Linked DNA regions of Homo sapiens: region 2 is linked to region 1. The links come from fine-mapping of genetic effects on gene expression. Tissue or cell type: blood mononuclear cells. Region 1 holds a variant in brackets; the other region holds the start of a gene. All regions are shown on one strand. Distances are from middle to middle.

Region 1 (8,207 bases):
ACACACCACCTCTTGATCCTAATCTGCTCAAGACTAAAAGTATATGGTCTTTAGTCTTAGATATATAGTATTTAGATATATAAGTCAAACACTGTGTTCATAAGTTACATGGATAAATTCTTTATTTTTTCCCTTCATTATTATATTTTAATTTAAACCTAAATGAAGAGAAGTTAAGTAACTGCTTTAAACTAGAGAAAAATGTATCAGTAACAATAATGGAAACTAACTTCTCCAGTGCAGCCATAATAGGGAGTTCCCAGCATAAAGACCATACTTCTCAGAGGAAACAAATCATCCAATGTTTTGATATTGGAGAAACGGGAGTCGAAAGCTCGGATGTCCTACATAAAATAAAAGTAAATAATCTTAGTCATAATTTCTATAGATTGCGTATCAAGTTTTTTTCCTATGGGATTATGACTATGCTGTTTGCAAATGTCAATGTGAAGATTTTTCTACATAATGCCAAGAGCTAAAATTTGTTGACTGGTTATATGGCAGGCACCCTTCTATGTGCTTCACACATTTATTGAGTTCATTTAATCCTCATGACAAACCTCTGTGGCAGAGACCATTATTAGCCTCACTTTACAGATGACAAAACTGGGGCACAGAAAGGGGATGAATCTTGTCCAAGGTCATGCAGCTAAGAAGCCAACTCAGGCAGCCAGTGTTCTTAAGTCACTTAATCACTACACTGTACTATAACACCCCAAATTACAGGATCGCTACATACTTAAAAAAATTTTTGTCCTCTTATCGTATCTAAGATTATAAATGCAAAAATAAAATGCCTTTTACATTTATAAGATTTAAGGCAAACATTTTTGAAGAATAAAAATATAAAATTCAAGGGTGTAAGTTAATGGTGGGATTTTTTCTTTTAGAGTCTAAGTCCTTAAAAAAAACCATAAAAGGCTGGGCGCAGTGGCTCACGCCTGTAATCTCAGCACTTTGGGAGGCCGAGGTGGGTGGATCACGAGGTCAGGAGATTGAGACCATCCTGGCTAACATGGTGAAACCCCATCTCCACTAAAAAATACCAAAAAATTAGCCAGGTGTGCTGGCGGGCACCTGTAGTCCCAGCTACTCGGGAAGCTGTGGCAGGAGAATGGCGTGAACCCAGAAGGCGGAGCCTGCAGTGAGCCGAGATGGCGCCACTGCACTCCAGCCCGGGCAACAGAGCGAGACTCTGTCTCAAAAAAAAAAAAAGAAAAAAAAAAAAGCATACGAAAGCATAAAAGACAAGTTTCCTAACTATATATACTGAGTGTCTGAGCATGTAATACTTCTTACAAATAATAAGTTATTTTGTAAATTATATTAAATGATAATCTCTATTATACATTGCTGAATTAGTCTATTTATATTAACATATCTTTTCATTATACAGTGAATAGTGTATTAATAGTGTATATTAAGACAGAATTGAAACTTGATATAGACTTACCTTGACAATAGTTTGATAAACAAAAGGAACAACTTGTTTTGACCACTGTTTCTCTAGACGAACTTCACCATTTTGATTTATTTGATATTTACGACCTGTGAGTAACTGAGCATACACAACTGCAGATGTTTCATTTATTATTATTCCTTTTCTTCTCAGGTAGCTAAAATAAAGAATAAACATGAAATATACATATGAATGAGTATGCAGATATTCTAGGACGATAATCGTCAACTATCGTAAACTATCAACTCATAATCAAGTGTGTAAATAAACTTTAAATAAATACGCTAGCAGTTCCAGGTACCTAACTTGAGACTTTTTGCATTATTTATTTTACTCTGTGGGTACTTCTCCAACTGTCTCTGTGATTAAATAAGAACTCATAGAGCTATACAAAACTCCTGTTCTCACATCCACTAGGATCGTTATAATTAAAAAACAGGGAAAAAAATAAGTTTTGGTGATGACATGGAAAAACTGGAACATCTGTACATTACTGGTGGGACTGTAAAATGGTGCAGCTGTTGTGGAAAACGGTTTGGCAGTTCCTCAAAAAGCAACATATAATTAACACATGACCCAACAATTCTAAGCATTCCAACCCCCCCGGATTGGAAACAGGTACTCAAACAAATATTGATACACAAATGATCATAGCACCACTATTCAAATAGCCAAAAGGTAGAAACAATCCAAATGTTCATAAATGAACAAATGGATAAACAAACAGTGGCATATCCATACAATGGAATATTATTCAGCCATAAAGAGGAATAAGCACTGACACATGCTACAATGTGTATGAACTTCGAAAGCATGCTAAATGAAAGAAGCCTGATACAAAAGGCCATATATCATATGATTCCATTTATATGAAACATCTAAAATAGGTAAATCCATGAAGACAGAAAATAGATTGGGGGTTGCCAGGAGTATGTGATGGCTTTTCCAATCTAAAGTAATTCAGACAGCCTCCTAGTTTTTTAGATAAAAGTTTACTGGAACATAGTTATCCATTTACTTCCTGTCTATGGCTGCTTTTGCGCTACATGGTAAAGTTGAGTAGTTGTGACAGACATTGTAAAGTCTACAAAGCCTAAAATATTTACTATTTGCCCTTTACAGAAGAAGTTTGCTGACCTTTCATCTAAATATATAATCATTCTTCATTTAAGGAATACTTTCTTATCTCCTTTCCATTTTCTCTTTCTAGAACTCCTAATAGATAGATATTAAAATTCTGATATTATTTTCATCTCTTTGTGCTTTTGTACTGCTTACTGAAGGAATTCCTAAGGTTGATCATTTAGCTCACTGATTCAATTTTTAGTATGCCCGTATTACTACTCAGTCCATCTACCGAGCTCACTTTACCAATCACACTTTAAAAGTTTTGTTTATACAAATATGTCATAAAAATAGTATATAATATAGACTATATAAATAGCATATAATATAGTATATAATTATATAACACGTTATATATTTTTTCACATCAGCTTATACTTTAATAATGTTGTCTATGGCAAAGTTGGTCTGAAAAAAGTCATGTCACCTTAGCCAGAAACAAAAGTTTTCCAACAAATTTTTGAAACACACCATTTTCTAAAAATTTATTAGAATTTTTTTCTACCACTTTCACTTAAAAGTCATTTAGCCAGTAATCTTGATATCAACAGCTGACCAGGACATTTCAGGAAATCTTTATAATTATGGGCCAGTATTTCTCATGAAAGTAGATGCAAAAATCTTAAAACAAACTTAAACAGATAAAATCCAATTATGTATAAAAGGATAATATATCATAAATAAATGGGATTTATTCCAGAAATTTAGGGGTAGATTAATATTGGAAATTCAATCAATGCAATTCATCAGATTAACAGGATAAAAATAATATAATCAGTTTGACAGCTGCGGAAAAAACATTTTACAAATCAGCACCAATTAATGATAAAAACTCTTAATCAGAATAGAAGGAAATTTCCTTAACCTGATAAAGAACAGTAATTAAAAACAAGCTACAGTGATAATTTTATTTAAAGATAAATTACTTAGTTTTCCCCTGAAATTGAGAATGACACAATAAGCCAGTAAGAAAACTATAAAGTAATGAGAAAAAGATAATCAACCCAATTTTAAAAAGGGCAACAGACTTGAACAGGCATTTCACAAAAGAGTATGCATATTCAAATGGCCAACAAACACGAAAGGATGTTCAATTTTATTAGTCATCAGGGAAATGCAAATTAAAGCAAAATGAGATACTACTACTATACCAAAATGGCTAAAATGAAAAAGCAATAGTAAGTACTTATGAAAACAGAAATCAACATAAGTTCTTATAAACTGCTGGTAGAGCGTAAATTGATACAAAGAGTTTGCAAACCTTTTTGGTAGTATCTGTTCAAGCTGAATGTAGGCATATGCTATGAAGCAGTAATTCTACTCTTAGATATATACCCAAAAGGAATGCATAGACATATACCCAAAAGGAATGCATATATACACGTTCACCAAGAGCCCCAAATGAGAAACAACTCAAATATCCATCCACTGTAGAATGGAAAAATTGTGCTGTATTCATACAATGTAATAGTATCATTAGTGAAAATGAACAAACTATGATTACATGTAACAATATGGATATTAGAATCACAATACTGACCAAAAGAAATCAGGCTCAAGAAGAATACACTCTGTGTGAATGAACTTATACTGCATAAAGTTCAAAAATAGAAAACACAAATGTATGTGGTTACAAGTCAAAATGGTTATCCTCGTCACTGGGGGTGGGGAGGGAGCAGCGGATGGTAATGGATAAAAGGGTGTACAAGGGACTTCCTTGGATTATGGTAATATTCCTGTTATTGTTTCTTGACTTGTATTCTTGTTCCACATGTGAAAATTCATCAAGTAATATACTTATGATTAATACACCTATAATTCGCAAGTATTTTTTGCTCCATATGTATACAGCCAT[T/A]CTTTGGGAGACATTTCAGGTTCAGTTCCAGACCACCACAATAAAGTGAGTCACATGAATTTTTCTGTTTCCCAGTACATACCAAAGTTATGTTTACACTGAGTCTATTAAGTGTATAATAGCATTATGTCTTTAAAAAATGTATATATCTACTATGGTTTGGATATAGTTTGTTTGACTTCACCAAGTCTCACGTTGAAATCCAATCCCTAATGTTGGAGATGGAGCCTGGTGAGAGATGTCTGGGTCATGGGGTGGATCCTTCATAAATGGCTTGCTGCTGTCTTCCTTGCAATGAGGAGGATACGGGGGTTTATCACTCTACTAGTTCCCATGAGAACTGACTGTTAAAAAGAACCTGGCACCTCCCTCCCTACCCCTCTCTTGCTTCTTTTCTTGCCATGTGATCTGTACACGCCTGTTCCTCTTTGTCTTCTGCTATGAGTGGAAGCTTCCTAAGGCCCTTACCAGAAACATATGCTGATGCCATACTTCTTGTGCAGTCTGCAGAACTTTGAGCCAAACATACCTCTTTTCTTTATAAATTACCCAGCCTCAGACTGGGCTAAGACAATACTTTCATTTTCAAATACAGCTGACACTTGAAAAACACAGGTTTGAATGACATAGGTCCACTTACATGCAGATTTTCCTCCTCCTCTAACACCTCCAAGACAGCAGATGAACCCCTCCTCTGCCTACTCAACATGAAGACGAAGATGAAAACTGTTATGATCAACCACTACCACTTAATTAATAGTAAATATATTTCTCTTATGATTTTATAATAACATTTTCTTCTATCTTACTTTATTGTAAGAACACACTATATAATACATATACAAAATATGCGTTATCAACTACTTATGTTATCGGCAAGTCTTCTGATGAACAGTAGGCTTTTAGCAGTTAAGTTTTGGGGAGTCAAAAGTTGTATGTGCATTTTTTTTACTGTATTGGGGGTCAGCACCCCTACCTCCCACACTGTTCAAAGATCAACTGTACTTTATTGCTCAAAAATGCTAACAGTAGGCTATTAGTAGTTAACTTTTTGTTAGTGGAGGGTCTCACCTTGATATTGATGGCTGTTGATTAGTCAGGGCAGTGGCCGATGAAGGTTGGGATGGCTGACGCAATTTTTGAAAATAAGACAATAATAAAGTTTGCTGTATCAGCTGACTCTTCATGAAAGATTTCTCTGCAGAATGCAATGCTATTTTATAGCATTTTACCCACAAGAGAAGTTCTTTCCAACTTGGAGTCAATGCTCTCAAAGTCTGCCACTGCTTTTCAACTAAATTTATGTAATATCCTAAATCCTTTGCTGTCATTTCAACAATGTTCACAGCATCTTCACTATGAGTAGATTCCATCTCAAGAAACCACTTTCATTGTTCATCTATAAGAAGCTACTCTTGGCCGGGTGCATTGGCTCATGCCTATAATCTAAGCACTTTGGCACGTTGGGAGGCCAAGGCAGGTGGACACTTGAGAGCACGAGTTTGAGACCAACCTGGCCAAAATGGCAAAACTCTGTCTCTACTAAATATAAAAAATTAGCTGCGTATGGTGGCGCTTGCCTGAATCCCAGCTACTCAGGAGGCTGAGGCACGAGAATAGCTTGAACACAAGAGGTGGAGGTTGCAGTGAGCCGAGATCGCACCACTGCACTCTGGCTTGGGTGACAGAGCGAGACTCTGTCTCAAAACAAAACAAAACAAAGAAGCAATTCCTCATCCATTCAAGTTTTATCATGAGAAAGCAGCAATTCATTTCCATCTTAAGGCTCCACTTCTAATTCTAGCTTTTTTTTTGCTATTTCCACCACATCTGCAGTTACTTCCTCCACTGAAGTTTTGAACCTCTCAAAGTCATATAGGAGGGTCGGAATCAACTTCTTTCAAATTCCTGCTAATGTTGATAGATACTTTGAAATCCCATGAATCATGAATGTTCTTAATGGCATCTATAATAGTGAATCCTTTCCAGAACGTTTTCAATTCACCTTGCTCAGATCCATCAGAGCAGTCACTCAGAGTCTCGCTCTGTTGCCCAGGCTGGAGTGCAGTGGTGTGATCTTGGTTCACTGCAACCTCTGCCTCCCAGGTTCAAGCGATTCTACTGCCTCAGCCTCCCAAGTAGCTGGGATTACAGGTGTCCGCCACCACGCTCAGCTAATTTTTGTATTTTTAGTAGAGACAGTGTTTCATCATGTTGGCCAGGCTGGCCTCGAACTACTGACCCCAGGTGATCCACCCACCTCAGCCTCCCAAAGTGCTGGGATTACAGGCATGTGCCACTGTGCCCGGCCAAAAATGTATTTCTTAACTACTAAAACTTGAAAGTTCAAAGTACTCCTTAGTCCATGGGTTGCAGAATGGATGTTGTGTTTGCATGCGTGAATGGATGTTGTGTTTGCATGTGTGAAAACATTATCTCCTTGCATATCTCCATCAGAGCTCTCAGTTGATCAGGTGCACTGTCAATGAACAGTAATATTTGGAAAGGATCTTTTACTATGACCAGTAGGTCTCAAGAGTGGACTTAACATATTCAGTAAACCACACTGTTAACAGATGTGCTGTCATTCAGACTTCGCTGTTCCATTTATAGAGCACAGGCATAGATTTAGCACAATTCTTAAAGGCCCCAGGATTTTCAGAATGGTCAATGAGCACCGGGTTCAACTTAAAGTAACCAGTTGCACTTTTCCCTAACAAGAGAGTTAACCTGATTTTTGAGGCTTTGAAGCCAGGCATTGGCTTCTCCTCTGCACCTATGGAAGTCCAGGATGGCATCTTATTCCAATAGAAGGCTGTTTTGTCTAGGGTTGTTGTTTAGTGTAGCCATCTTCATCAACAATCTTAGCTAGATCTGGATGACTCACTACAGCTTCTACATTAGCATTTGTTGCTTCAGCTCACACTTTATATTATGAAGATGGCTTCTTTCCTTAAACTTCATGAACCAACCTCTGCTTACTTCAAACTTTTCTTCTGCAGCTTCCTCACCTCTCTCAGCCTTTATAGAATTGAAGAAAGGTAGGGCCTTACTGTGGATTAACCTTTGGCTTAAGGGAATGCTGTGACTAGTGTCATCTTCTATCCAGACCACTAAAACTTTCTCCATATTAGCAATAAGGTTGTTTAATTTGCTTATCATTGGTGTATTCACTGGAGTAGCACTTTTGATTTCCTTCAAGAATTTTTCTTTTGTATTCACAACTATTTGGTGCAAGAAGCCTAGCTTTTGGCCTGTATCAGCTTTTGACATGCCTTCTTCACTAAGCTTAATCATTTCCAGCTTTTGATTTAAACCTAGAAACATGTGATTCTTCCTTTCACTTGACTACTTAAGAGGACATTGTAGGGCTACTAACTGGCCTAATTTCAATATTGCTATGTCTCATGGAATAGGGAAAGAGAAAGAGACTAGGGGACCGTTGGTTGGTAGAGCAGTCAGCACACACACAACATTTATTGATTAATTCACCATCTCAAATGGGCATGGTTGATGGTGACCAAAAACAATTACAATAGTAACATTAAAAATCACTGATCATAGATGACCATGACAGATATAAAAATAACAATAATAAAGTTTGAAATATTGTGAGAATTACCAAAATGTGACACACAGGCATGAAGTGAGCACATACTGTTGGAAAAAATGGCACTGATAGAGTTGCAACATGGTTGTCGCAAGCCTCTAATTTGTAAAAAAAAATGCAACTATCTCTGAAGCACAATAAAGAGAAGCACAATAAAA
Region 2 (8,155 bases), 61 kb after region 1:
TTGGGTGGCTAAGGCACAAGACTTGCTTGAACCGGGGAGGCAGGGGTTGCAGTGAGCCGAGATTGCGTCACTGTACTCCAGCCGGGGTGACAGAGCGCGACCTTGTATCCAAAATAAAAAATAAAAAAAAAGAATGAATAAGACCTACTATGTGATAGCACAACAGGGTGACGATAGGCAATAATTTAAAAACAACTAAAAGAGTGTAATTAGATTTTAACACAAAGGATAAATACTTGAGTGGATGGATACTCCATTCTCCATGATATGATTATTACACACTGCATGCCTGTACGAAAACATCTCATGAACCCCATAAGTATATACACTATGTTTCATAAAAAAAAATAATCATAATAATCCCAGGCTTCATTTCACTTTTTTAAAAAATACTGTTTTACAACATACTAATATACCATGTCTATTTTAATATGCATTTCTATATGCTATATGCTATAGCTAATAAATTAATTCACTCAAAAAATATTTACTGAGTACCCATTCTGTTATGCTGCTTTGGTTTTTTCTTTTTCAGGCACCTCTACTATTTGTCTTCTTTGCCTATCTTTCTTATCGTTACTTTTTCTTGAATCTTTTAAATCTATTTTATTTTTTAAAATTTCATCTTTCCACTGCCGATTGTTTTCTCAAATGGTATCATTTGCTCGTCTTGCTTCTATTTGAGGCTCAGCTCTGCATTTTTTTTTCATTTACTTCTAACTTTCTCTGTCATCTCATTCTCACATTTTCATAATTGATACACGTTGTTCTTTCATGTCTTACCTCATTTTCTTAATGCCTTTTAACTCATTGTGAAATAGATAATAGTTTTGGTTATAATTTTGGTCTATTTTGTGTGCATTTTTTTCATTGCAAGTTTTTATGTCTGGAGAGATACTCTGTCCCTTTTTCTCGTATAATAACTTTGTATGTAATTTGATCTCAATACCTTTCTGTAGCTCATTTTTATGTGAATTTAATTTTCTTGAACTTTTAGAATGAGTAGAGGTTCAGGGAATATAAGTTCACAAAGCTGTTTCTGGGTAGTGTTAAAAAATACAGTGGTTTGCTTTGTGGTTTGTTTTCTAAGATTTCTTGATTCTATGACTTTGCCTCACTTTTATATGGTCTATCTCCTTCTCTTCTTGTCTCTATTGTCCCTTTCATAAAATTTTATTCCACTTCCAGCATAACATTTCCGTAAGACTTTATTCCACTCCCTTTTCCTTAGGGCTCTGGTCTAGAATGGCACCTTGGCAAGTCAGTTTTGAGTGTTCACAGGAGGTAGACTACTCCTGCCTGTTTGGTCTTTCTTATGGTAGACCTTCACCCAGTCAATAATGGAGTGAATAAAACTCCTCTGTTTCAGCTACCGCTATCTAATTGGCCAGCACAGTCTTTTAGTGGATACCGCTGGCTATTCTGGAATTCTGTTCTAAGGTTCATCAGATGTTGCCCCATTGCTTCCTTCTCGCTTTTGCACAGATGGCAATATCAACGGTGTCTAGAGACTATTGATAGTTTGCCTCACCTAGTTATGTTTTGAGTTTCATGGGGATAGCATGTCACATGGTTTGTTGTAATTGTTTTATGGATTTTAAACTTTGGTTTCTAGTTTCTCTTTCTGTTTTTACAAGATGATTCAGAGAAACTGAAAACCTATGCTACTGAGGCCACACCACTGACTTCCCGTAACTTACTTCTTCTCCCTATCCTTCCCGCCCAGGACTAGCTTTTGAATGCCTGTGACTTATTTAGGCATTACCATCTTTAAGTTCTACTTAACAGAGAAGCTGATAACCTTTGGTCTCTTTTTAATCAAACATTTTTGAAAGGTATCACAACAATGAACCAAATTTTAAAATTTATTTACAGTGAAATTTAAAAATAATTCTCCTCCCAGTTTCTATATAAAGCTTTCACAAAACCTATCCTTAGTGTCCATGTCATAAAACTGCATTAAAGAGATTTTCATTCTTCAGTAACAAAATTCCTCAGGATGGAGAGAATCTAAGATATTTTCACCAAACCAAATTCTGTGCCACAGACTACAGAATAAAAATATTACTGAACAAATTATGTATTAAATCATCACGAATAACAATCGCATTATTTTTGCACTTTAGAGATAAAGTGACTGATATATAGCAGGTACTGACTGAAGGATGCAAGAAAAGCCAAAGTTGGTTGTCTCCATTTCTGCAATGTACTGGTTTCCTTTTTAGCCCTCCCCGGGGGAAAAAAATACCTCTCTAAACCTAACTCAATCTATGTTTCAAATAAATTCAAGATAAGCTAACCTTGGAAACTTTTTGTAGTCTATTTCTCATCTACCAAATCTGATTGGAATCCAGCAACAAAAACTCCTTTCCAGAAGTAAACTACCTTCATGTTCGTAAATGCCGATTAAACCATAATTTAATAGGCTATTTACAATACTACCCATCACAACTGATTCAATCAGCTACACAAATTTCAAGCTTTTTTTCTGTAAAGCATCAGAAAAGAGATCAAATTCATTAAATGTGACAAACACCAAAGTATCACCCAAAGTCTAGTTTACCTAATAGACGACTGCTTTCTCCTCTCTTTCCACAGTTCCAATATATAAACTACGTTTTCGGAATCTACACATTAACGTTGTCCTGGGGTCAGTACATGCCAAATATTATTAGTAGTATTAATGTTCTATCAATTCGTTTCCCAACCCCCTCTGTCACACAGTGAGGCCTCCAAATAAAAGGTCCTACGCCCCACTCCCCAGCTGGCCCAAGAGTTTTTTGTTTTGGCAACAGGGGATTGGTGCTGCTTTTGAAATAACAGAAAGTAACAAAAGGCATCACCAATATGACCATCAGCCACGTCGGAAAGTCTAGGCTCCGGGGGCCGGGTGGGCCGCGCTCTAGATCAGGGAAAGTAAACAAGGTGACTGCGTGCGGAAGCGGCTGTTATCGTCTGTAAGTGGGTCTGCCGCTCTGGGTGGGATGGGGGAACCTACGAGGACACCCACTCCAGCTTCGCAGCCTCTGTAAGGAAAAAGGCAACTTGCAGCTCCCCGGGAGGAAACCGGAGAACAGTAAAAGCGTTCTTTCCCAGGACTTCATTTCGGAGTCGCGGAAGGACCAGCAGAAGCAAGAGCTGTCAGAGAAGCCGTGAACCCAGCGGCTCTGTCCACACACAGGCAACCTGCGTCCTTAGCCCCTTTCGGCTCATCCGGGCGTCCTCAAACCTTCCGTCCCCCTCCCTAATGCCACTAATCGTCCAGACGACGAGGGGAAAGAGGTGGCTCGAAAGCCCCAGCTCTAAGGTGGAGAGGGCCGCGGAGCCCCGGGTCCTCGGCTTTCTGAGCCGTTGCCCCTCGCTCACCCACCTGATGCTCTTTCACCACTTCGCTGAGACAGGGATACCGCTCTGAGATCCATCTGTAAAACTTGGGGACTCCCATTTCGATCGTCAACACTAATCCCAGTCAGGGCCAAACCGAAACCAAACGCCCCGCCGGGGCTCCGCCGCAGCCTCCGGTCGTCGCTCCGCGGATGACAACACACCGCCCGGCCGACCATAGAGAGCGCCCGGCGGGCCTAGAGCGGCAGGATCCGAGGCCGTCCGAGGGGCGGGGCTTAGCCCTCCGGGCCTCGCGCGGCCGGGGCCGCGGTACTGTCCAGTGGCGGTCAGGGAATCTGCGGAGGTTTGCTGGTGTGTTGCAACTTAGGGGCGAAAATGCCCCATGATAGAGTTGTGCTTTCTAAGTGGATTTGGAAGTGGCATGAAAACCGTACGAAGGTGTGGGAAGGGTATCGAACACTGATTTTTGTTCCGCTTGTCTCCTAGGGTTGCTAATCTCAGTATTTTTCATTCAGATTTCGAAAGATCTGGTGATTTACTTGGCTTAGTTTGTTGTTTTGTCAATAATTTTTTTTCTCTGAGGAATTTAAACTTACGTTTCTTAATACATACGTTTAAAAACGTTCTTTTCCAAATTGTTCAAAAAAATTTCCCATGTACCCGCCCCCCGCAACTGTTAACATAAGACCTTGGATACGAAATCATTTAATGTTTAGTTTTGACATTCTTGCATCCGGGTTTATCATATTTTTCCCCATCACACTTTCAACCGCACAGCAAAGGAGAGTTCTATCAACTTAAGTGAAATTATCAGTTTTAAATGTAAGAGTTTTCCACTTATTTGAATGTATTAACCCGTTACTTTGTATTTAAGTCTTCTGGATGAAAACTTACAGAAAAACCTTAAACATTTAATACTTTTTGGATTTTAAGATCTCAGGAAATGTTAAGTATCGCTGTCTTTCATGACCACTGGATTCTGCATTCTGGGACTGCAGTATGGCAGCATCACACAAATTACAGAATGTTTATTTCGTTTTCACATTCACGCTTCTTGGCTTATATTTTTTCCCTATCACACTTTAAAACAAAGTTTTATTAAGTGAACTTAATGATATGCTATTTATATTTATATATCTCTCTTACTAGACTGTCACTTCCTGGAGGGCAGGAGAGGGTAGCTCTATGCACAAGTCTGGCACAACGCCTTGCCCACAGTATTTATTCCATATAATTTTGTTCTTCAAGTGAATCCTTACAATAGCTAGGACTTTTAAAAGGAAATCAATAGAAGTTGTAAAATGAAATTAGACTTGCTTGTTTCTTGCAAATATAGTTTTTGACCATAAGAACACATGATATTCTATTTCTCCAATTATAATGCACAGTATGTATTAAGAAAGCAGTTTATTTCTTAATAACTGAATGTATATTATTTTACATATAATTAATGATCAGAGAGAAATAACAGTTGCTGAGAACGTAAATTTATGTTGTACTTTAGAATTGAACAGATACAACCACAGATTCATACCAAATGCATTACTTTTAGATTATTAACATATTCTTTTACATAATTTCATTTCACATATATGGAGTCCAACCAAGATACATCTGGCATAGTAAGTTTTCATCAGTAGCTTCCTGTATAAGGTAATGCACATGTCCTTCAATAGATAACGGCAGTCCTGTCACTCTATTTCGAGTCTTGATTACACCTTGTAGTCGCTGCTCAATGTCAAGAACATGGGTCTTGGCCTAAAAAGAAGAAACATAAAACCAAAAACAGATGTTAATAATTTGGAATTACTACCTTTCTTTATATTTTGACATTTAATAAATGTTAATACCATTTTACTGACCAATACCCCTTTTGTAAGAGCAAATACAGGAAAAGAAGAAATTAAACAAATACAGTTAGCTTGTGATACTGATTTGGAGGCTCGCAAGATTGATTCAACATCAACTGCTTGGACATGTTTCTGGACTACGTGAAATACCAGGGAATTATTTACACATTACAATTCTAGAAAAATAATTTTTTAAATCTGCTTTGGAAGTGTTTAGGACTTAAACATTTCAATGAATATTCAAATAACAATGCTGTACTGCCTAATATTTACATTATGTTAGTACATGCAAATGGGTGTTCTAAGTGAGCTACTTGGAACTGTACAATTTCTTAAGCATATCTGAATGCAAAAGGAAGAATAACGTTATTAGAAGAATAATTCTCAGAGGTGGTGCTGGGTGGGCTGGTGGGCTGCGCTGCAGCCCACGAGCACAAAGAGGAGGGCCACGGGGTGGAGACTGTTGCTGTGCCATCTGCCATCGACTTTTCCGCCAAGAGCCTGGACTCCAAATATGACTTATGTTCCAGCAGAACTCCAGGTATTAAAATAACCCCTACAACAGCCAACTTTCCCTTTTGCAGTTGCAAACCAGCTGCCGCTTATTTCTTTGGTGAAGCACTTGAGCCATGTGCGTGAACCAAACCCAGTTCATTCAAGACAGTGTTTAAGTTACTTTGCCAGACCTTTATCAAAATGGGGCTGCTGTCTTCTTTCACTTGTGACAAGTTTAGCTCATTGAGACTACATCACCACAGAGCTATTACTCACTTAATGAGGTCCACTAAAGAGAGAGTTCATCAGGATCCTTGTGAGGCTATTTCTCATATCCAGAAAATCAGATCAAGGGAAGTACCCTTTGAAGCACAAACTTCACGTTACTTAAATGAATTTGAAGAACTTGCCATCTTAGGAAAAGGTGGATATGGAAGAGTATACAAGGTCAGGAATAAATTAGATGGTCAGTATTATGCAATTTAAAAAATCCTGATTAAGGGTGCAACAAAAACACATTACATGAAAGAACTACGGGGAATGAAGGTGCTGGCAGGTCTTCAGCACCCTAATATCATTCGTTATCACACTGCGTGGACAGAACATGTTCAAGTGGTCCAACCACAAGCAGACAGAGCTTCCGTTCAGTTGCCATTTCTGGAAGTGTTCTCCGACCAAGCAGACAGATACCAATACGGTGTTAAAAATGGTGAAAATAGCAGCTCACCCATTATCTTCGCGGAGCTCACCTCAGAAAAGAAAAACCCTTTGCAGAATCTGACACTCAAAATCAGAACAACAAGCTGTGAACTACACCATCAATTCCGTCTTAAGAGACACCAGTGAATATGAATCATCCCTGGAGCTCCAGGAAAATGGCCTGGCTGGTTTGTCTACCTGGTCAATTGTGAAACAGCCCCTGCTGCTCAGGTGTAATTCCCTCCTAGAGGAGAATTTCACATCCACTGAGGAATCTTCCAAAGAAAACTTCAACTTGTTGGGGATCGAGGTGCAGTACCACCTGATGCTGCACATCCAGATGCAGGTGTGCAAGCTCCAGCTGTGGGACTGGCTAGCTGAGAGAAACAAACAGGGCCAAGAGTGTGTGGGCAAGTTTGCCTGTCCTTATGGCCAGTGTTGCAACAAAAAATTTTCAAGATTTAGTGGAAGGTGTGTTTTACATACATAACATGGGTATTGTAAACAGAGATCTGAAGCCTAGAAATATTTTTCTTCATGGCCCTGATCAGCAAGTAAAAATAGGAGACTTTGGTCTGGCTTGCCCAGACATCTTACAAAAGAACACAGACTGGACCCATAGAAACAGAAAGAGAACACCAACACCTATATCCAGAGTGGGCACTTGTCTGTATGCTTCATCCCAGCAGTTGGAAGGATCTGAGTATGATGCCAAGGGTCTCACTCTGTTGCCCAGGCTGGAGTGCAGTGGTGTCATCATAGCTCACAGCAGCCTCCAACTCCTGGGGTCAAGTGATCCTCCCACCTCAGCCTCCCAAGTAGCTGGGACTACAGGAGTGTGCCACTGAGCCCAGCTAATTAAAAAAAAACAAAAACTATTTGTAGAGACCAGGGCTGGCTTTGTCCAGTTAGATATGTATATAGCTTGAGTGTGATCCTGCTAGAGCTCTTTCAGCTGTTTAGAACAGAAATGGAGCGAGCAGAAGTTTTAACAGGTTCAAGAACTGGTCAGATATTGGAATCCCTCAGTAAAAGGTATCCAGTACAAGCCAAGTATATCTATCACTTAACGAAAAGGAACATGTCCCAGAGACCATCTGCTCTTCAACTGCTACAGAGTGAATTTTTCCACAATTCTGGAAATATTAATCTCACCCTACAGATGAAGATAATAGAGCAAGAAAAAGAAATTTTTCTTTTAGTTCTTTTAGAAGAACTAAAGAAGCAGCTAAACCTTCTTTCTCAAGACAAAGGGTTAAGGATGACATGAAGGATGGGGGCGTACAGGTCTAGCCTTCCTCGAGCTATATCAGTAGGATGAAAGTGGACTTAAACTCTTTAGGTAGTTAACTGGAATGTAAATTTTTAATCTTTATTAGCATATAGTTGGTATAATTCATTGTATTTAGTAAGCCTGTACAAGACTTATTAAAGATGTAAGAGTGCCCCCCACCAAAAAAAACGAATCCTCAATCTATTCTAACTTATTAAAAACAACTATCTGAGCTAGGCACAGTGGCTTATGCCTATAATCCCTGCATTTTGGGATGCTGAGGTGGGTGGATCACTTGAAGCCAGGGGTTCAAGACCAGCCTGGCCAACATGGTGAAACCCATCTCTACTAAAAATATAATAATTAGCCAGCTGTGGTGGTGCACGCTTATAATCCCAGCTACTTGGGAGGCTAAGGCAGGAGAACTGCTTGAACCCAGGAGGCAGAGGTTGCCGTGAGCCAAGATCGTGCCACTGTACTCCAGCCTGGATGA

The links. PIP is the estimated chance that this variant, and not a neighbour inherited with it, causes the effect.
Region 2: it holds the start of XRN1, and the variant in region 1 is fine-mapped to the expression of XRN1 in blood mononuclear cells (TOPMed, PIP above 0.99).

Annotation. Positions count from the first base shown.
Region 1 is chr3:142,383,070-142,391,276 of GRCh38, forward strand. It overlaps XRN1 (5'-3' exoribonuclease 1), which reads right to left. Exons shown (of 41, transcript NM_001282857.2): 21 at 1,454-1,616; 22 at 231-344. Among named protein-coding and RNA genes, the nearest start is that of XRN1, 61 kb to the right of the region's middle. The variant T/A (reference allele first, on the strand shown) is at 4,440.
Region 2 is chr3:142,444,500-142,452,654 of GRCh38, forward strand. XRN1 (5'-3' exoribonuclease 1) reads right to left here and starts at 3,538. Exons shown (of 41, transcript NM_001282857.2): 1 at 3,371-3,538. The coding sequence starts at 3,445. ATR (ATR checkpoint kinase) reads right to left here. Exons shown (of 47, transcript NM_001184.4): 47 at 4,736-5,103. The coding sequence ends at 4,930. It also overlaps the pseudogene EIF2AK1P1. RefSeq lists enhancers at 1,364-1,723, 3,256-3,535.